Homo sapiens: one gene and its partner. The protein of the gene in region 1 interacts with the protein of each later gene in a pairwise test. Each region holds a gene or a part of one and is shown in the gene's direction. Other genes may lie near its edges.

What was found. Proteins that work in one complex are often made in the same cells at the same time.
Region 2: the proteins of SLC44A1 (region 1) and C11orf58 interact in a two-hybrid assay, tested with the Homo sapiens proteins (one large-scale study listed by BioGRID and IntAct).

Annotation. Positions count from the first base shown.
Region 1 is NC_000009.12:105,363,151-105,366,650, forward strand, and holds part of SLC44A1 (choline transporter-like protein 1), read left to right. Parts: intron 1-1,404; coding exon 1,405-1,570; intron 1,571-2,332; coding exon 2,333-2,489; intron 2,490-3,195; coding exon 3,196-3,279; intron 3,280-3,500.
Region 2 is NC_000011.10:16,755,647-16,758,840, forward strand, and holds the end of C11orf58 (small acidic protein), read left to right. Parts: 3' UTR 1-2,694; downstream 2,695-3,194.

The DNA of each region.
Region 1 (3,500 bases):
CAACCTACTTCATATTCGTCTTTTTTTTTTGAGACAGAGTCTTGCTCTGTCACCCAGGCTGGAGTGAAGTGGTGCTCTCTTGGCTCACTGCAACCTCCGCCTCCCGGGTTCAAGTGATTCTTCTGCCTCAGCCTCCTGAGTAGCTGGGACTACAGGCACATGCCACCATGCCTGGCTAATTTTTGTATTTTTAGTAGAGACAGGGTTTCACCATATTGGCCAGGCTGGTCTCGAACTCCTGACCTCATGATCAGGTCAGGACGCCTGCCTTGGCCTCCCAAAGTGTTGGGATTATAGGCGTGAGCCACCGCACCTGGCCTTTTATTTTTTTTGAGACAGAGTGTCTCTCTGTCACACAAACTGGAGTGCAGTGGTGTGATCTCAGCTCACTGCAACCTCAGCCTCCCAGGTTTAAGCGATTCTCCTGCCTCAGCCTCCCGAGCAGCTGGCACTACAGGTATGCACCACCATGCCTGGCTAATTTTTGTATCTTTAGTAGAGACAGGGTTTCTCCATGTTGCCCAGGCTGCTCTCCAACTCCTGGCCTCATGTGATCCATCCACCTCGGCCTCCCAAAGTGCTGGGATTACAGGCGTGAGCCAGCGTGCCCAGCCCATATTCATGATTTTTTAGAACATCCTAGCAATGTAAGTCTAGATCAGGGAAGGCCTGAAATTGCACTCTAATTTTGAAATGATCATGAATTTGAAGTAAGTTCCAATACTGACTCAGACATTTAGATTCATTCTAAGATGAACCAGTGAATGCAATGTCACTCAGGAGTTACCTCAAATCCCAGGTATAGCCAAGGATCTACTTACTTCCTTGGGATTTTCTGGTTTCGAAATGATCTGACCCTAGCTAGAGCTCCAACTGATGATATAGTTCATAGTTAGACACTCAGACTTTCTTACAGCCGTACTGAGTATCAAAGGTTAAGCTTAAATGGAACTAATTGTAAAGAGTATCATAAGGATAGTAAACTTTTATGTAACTATGTAACTTATCTGTCCATTCAGCACACACACTTAGCAACTGAATATAATAATAATTTCTGTACTTTGCTAAGAAATCTGTAATGATTGGATAAATAATAGGCCTTGAAAAAAACTGAAGTGTTTGAAAATTCATGCTTAAATAATTGATAATATAAGAAGAGTTTTATTAAATATAACAACTTTTAAAAGCTTTATATGATGCCTTTGAGGACATCAAAATGCATAATAGTACAATTCTTAATTTCACAACTTTTCAAGTGATAGTTATTTTTGTCCCTTTATGAAATACCACACAGATCAGAAGGTTTGTGGCTTGGGGTAGGGACCTATTGCCTTCTACTTAACTGCCGTATTTCTGGATTTGTACTTTATGTGCTTCTTCTTTCCTTCCTTGATATTTTCCTAGGCAGTCCTGTTCAGAATGAGCAAGGCTTTGTGGAGTTCAAAATTTCTGGGCCTCTGCAGTACATGTGGTGGTACCATGTGGTGGGCCTGATTTGGATCAGTGAATTTATTCTAGCATGTCAGCAGATGACAGTGGCAGGAGCTGTGGTAACATACTATTTTACTAGGTAAGAATATGTTGTTATTAGAAAACTCGAGTTCATCTAAGGGATGGTGTCCGCAGGCTGGAGGGGAAGGGAATCAGACTGGGGCTGGCAGGAGTTTCATTTCTTTAACAAAAGAATTAGAAATGAATATGACAGAGTGTTATATATAGTTGATAATTCTGGGAGGTGGTCAAATGAGAGATTGTTGTTTTATTCTTTATACTTTTCTGCAGTTGTCTCATAAAATTTATTGCGATGTCACAAATTGTATTTAGCAGAAGAATAAATCTTATAGTGGTGCCATATGTACTTTTGCTTTATATAAAAGTCCATCAAAGGACAACAAGTCTTTTTAGTTTGTTTAGACCGGAACAAGTGTGAGTTCCCTTTGCTAACTTTAGAGCCAAATATGAAAGCTTTAGGTCTCATAATTTTCTATTATAATTAGATGCCAAGTCTAAATTTAACATCTTTTTAAATTCTGTTTTCTGATGACCCCATAAGTATTCACTAATAAAAGCTTTCAGAGCACAGTTTTATTTAACTTGAAGTATTAGAGCATCAGAACCCCATGAAACTACCATAGAGCAATGACATTAATTTTATATAGCATGTCTGTAGCATTTGTAATAGTTATATATCACTTGGCCATTTTGTCATAAAGCTAAAATAAGAATGATGAGCTGATTTTTTTTTTCACTGCGTTGGACTCTAAACCATACCTGTGTTTCCATCCTGATCTAGGCTTTGTTTTAATTGTCTTTTTGGTCATTTTTTAAATAGGGATAAAAGGAATTTGCCATTTACACCTATTTTGGCATCAGTAAATCGCCTTATTCGTTACCACCTAGGTACGGTGGCAAAAGGATCTTTCATTATCACATTAGTCAAAATTCCGCGAATGATCCTTATGTATATTCACAGTCAGCTCAAAGGAAAGGTAAGGGGAAAATGCATTTCTGTACTTTCTGTGGGCACATTCCAGACCTCAGTTCTGCATGTAGTAAAGCACCCAATAATGTTAAATACAAAGTTGTGTTTTCTTCAAAGTCTTTACAAGGCAAAATCCAGCCCTTCTCCCTTGTCTCCCACTCATGCACTCCATATGCTCTGGCAAAATTCATCCAGTCACTAGTAACTAAAAGTATCCTGTGCTGCTCTTCCTCTCTGTTGACTCACATACCTTCCTCCTTAGAACTTCTTCCCTTCCTTGACTGTGGGAATAACATGCACTTCAACTAGTTTAGCTCAAATTCTACTCCTTTGTAGAAACCTTTCCTGATTCCTCCCATCTCCCAAACAATGCTGTCTCTTTGTTCTCCACTCTCATAACACTTAGTATCTATACTATATTCTGATTCTAACCTTTTTTGTGTTTGGTATTTTTTTTCTCCTACTAGATTGTAAGTTCCTTGCAGGTGTTATAAACTTCACTGTATATGCAGTAGAGACTAAATAAATATTTAATTGAACTTATTAAAAATAATTCAGTCATTATGTTTTAAGGAGAAAGTGGACAAGTATGGAGGCTTTGAAGCATAAATTGTGATTTTTAAATTTTTATTTATTTTTCTAACGTTTGAAGTCTTCTATGTGACAGTTTGATTCTTTGGTTTTTTTATTATTTCCATTTTTCCCCCATCCAGGAAAATGCTTGTGCACGATGTGTGCTGAAATCTTGCATTTGTTGCCTTTGGTGTCTTGAAAAGTGCCTAAATTATTTAAATCAGGTAAAATATTTTAAAAATAAATCTAATATTTACTTTCAAAGATAGGTTCATTGTTTCTTCTCCCAAGATAAACTTAATTGAAAGATGTTATGTTTTTCTTGTGGTATTGTACATTGTGCCTTGATAAAGTATGTCTATTTCAATCATATTCTTATTTTTTAAATTAATGTATATGCTTACCAAGGCTCATTATTATTTTAATTTTTTCCAACTTTTAGGTT
Region 2 (3,194 bases), on another chromosome or scaffold:
CACTTGTTAAGATGGAGTTATAACTGTCATACATTTGGAATATTATGATCCCAAGTAGTCTTTTTATAATTTGGATTGTATCGTATGTTAGATTTTTGATAAAATTTGGCCAATTTTTACAGAAGAAATTCTCTGATCATTTAGTTCTGTCTATTTAGAAATATGTAAAACTGGATTTTTTTTTAAGTAATATGTGACCAAAGTTAATTTTGTCCCAAAGGTCTAAATAAAGAGCAGTTTCCCATATTTGGCTGTGATACCTTTATCCTCATTATCTACAAATGAGGAACAGGCTTACTGATAAGAAGCTGAAACAAGAAATTCTCTTCATTTTATCCCAGTGCTATTTTATTGATTAATTACTAAAAAGTATTACTTTCTAATTTTATTGCTGTTTCTGTTGGTGTGAGATTAGAATCATCTGACTGCTATTAGGTGGTTGATTTGTATAGCTGATTAACACAAATTGCATTATGAGCTAGTAAATGGATCTTTGGATAATGGGGTCCAAATTCTTAATGTTTATAAGTAACAAGTTCAAAGGCTTTAGTCACACCTGTTTGTGAGCTGAGCTATTATACATCTACATACTTAAAGGATGTATTTGGAGTGTTGGATTTTTTTTTTTTTTTTTTTTTTTTGAGACGGAGTCTCATTCTGTCGCCCAGGCTGGAGTGCAGTGGCGCGATCTCAGCTAACTGCAACCTCTGCCTCCCAGGTTCAAGCGATTCTCCTGCCTCAGCCTCCCAAGTAGTTGGGACTACAGTCATGTGCCACTACTCCTGGCTAATTTTTTGTATTTTTAGTAGAGTTGGGGTTTCACGGTGTTAGCCAGGATCGTCTCGATCTCCTGACCTCGTGATCCACCCACCTTGGCCTCCCAAAGTGCTGGGATTACAGGCGTGAGCCACCACGCCCAGCCTTGGAGTGTTGGAATTTTTAAAAATTATTCTTATGTCACTTTGAAATGTAGAACGTGTTGCCATGTGCGGTGGCTCACACCTATAATCCCAGCACTTTGGGAGGCCGAGGTGGCTGGATCACCTGAAGTCAGGAGTTTGAGACCAGCCTGACCAACATGGAGAAACCCCATCTCTACTAAAAATACAAAATTAGCTGGGCGTGGTGGTGCATGCCTGTAATCCCAGCTACTCAGGAGGCTGAGGCAGGAGAATCACTTGAACCCAGGAAGCGGAGGTTGCAGTGAGCCAAGATCACCCCATTGCACTCCAGCCTGGGCAACAAGAGCAAAACTCCATCTCAAAAAAAAAAAAAAAAAAAATTTAGAATGTGTTAGAGAAATTTAACAAGTAGAACAGGTGATTTCTGGTTGATAGACTCTATCTTGCAGTATATTTATTTCATGTATCAGACCCCAAAGTTGTTGCCTTGTTATTTTTTTAATTTCTCACATTTTTGAAAAATAGATGCTATCCTCTATAGTAAAATATTGAATCACTTTATAGTAGACAATACATATGACATTTAACAAATACTTGGTTTGAAAAAGTTTGGCTTTATTCAACAATTTTAGTTTGCCCACTGATTTTCAAATGTCTGTGGGATTGCTTATAACTAAGTAGAAAGTGAAGACTGATTTTTACTTAAGAATGGGATAGAGATGAGTTTTATGGTTTTTAAAAGTATTTTCAGTTCATTATTTAAATGTTGGGTTGTTGATATGGTCTTGTTTCTGATAAGGAAATAGGAGCAACTTGTTTTAAAATAACTACACTAAAAGACTTTCTTCATCTCCGTATAGAGAAATCCAGATTTCAATTAATTCATTTATTGGGTGCTAACAAAATTCAGGGTTAGAGTAAATTTAGGTCTGTTGGTCCATGTGGCCTGGTTTCCTAGCACCCATTAAACATAATGCTATCTTTTAAGCCTGAACATGTGGGTTTTTTAAATCAAATTGGAAAAAAATTAGACAACTGATGTCATGCTGTCTTGGTATCCATACTAAAAAAGTATCAGGAAAATAGATTATTTTTGTGCTGTGAAACACTATTCAGTGGAAAGTTTAGTGGCAACTTTTCCATATCATTCATGACTTAATACCTGAAATGCACTTTTAAATGTTTGCCTTATATCCAAGTGTTTACTTGTATCCATGACCTAACCGTCTATTGAAAAGAATGTTTGCAGATGCAGATTGCAATGTTGTTTGTATTCATAGGCAAAAGTCCTCTTCTCTAGTATAATTTTTTAAATCTGAGAGAATTGAAGGTACAGAAAAAAATTCTGGAGTGCCTGAACCACAGTTTGAGAGCACAAAGGTCACATTCTTTCAGTAAATTTGGGGGAAATAAATTTCAGCTACCTGGTTAGCTTCAGTGACTACTTACACACAGGGCTTTGGTTCCATTACTTGTTTCCACCACAGCCACATCCTAAATACTTGGAATATCCGAAAACAACTTCTAAAATCACTCAATAAAAGTATTCACTTCTAACCAACTCCTCCTCCTTTATACCTGCTCTGTGTTAGGGCGTAGTCTGTTTCCACCTCTGTAAGTCCTATCTAGGCTTCCTGATCTATCAATTCAGTATCATGATTGTTAACCCAAACGACTTCCTGGAAAATTCCCAGCCCTAGATGTATCCAAGCCCTCCTACCCTCACCAGTTATTTCTGGAGAAAGATCACCAAATGTATAAATCCGTATTAGTAAAAATTGGTTTTAACTGACCTCAGCACTGCCCATTACCCTTATTTTCTCTAGTCGGTTCTCCATTCTTACTATGTAAAACTTATACTCTGAAACTTGTTACCCTCTTTTTTTCCTTCACTCTTAACATGTCCTTGCCTTCTATCTTACATAAAAATAGAGACCTTCAGGCACAAATTCCCTGAACTTCACTTACTAAATCCACAGCCATGGACAAGATTCTGTGCTCTAGGTTGTGACATCCCAACTCTACCACAGGGCTAAACTCGGTGACCTTGAGCATAAGTTGATCTCTCTGGGTCTCCTTTCTGGGTAAGTAAAATGAGGATAGTAACAGTAACCCCCTTTGCATAGTTAGTTATTGTGAGACTTAGGTAAAATGAACAAAAAGCTTAGTGCATAGATAAGTGATCAGTAAGTGCTGGCTCCTGGTTCCCACCACCCCCTCTGCCGCCCCGAGATGGGGTCCTGCTCTGTCACCCAAGCTGGAGTTCAGCAGCATGATCATGGTCATGGCTCA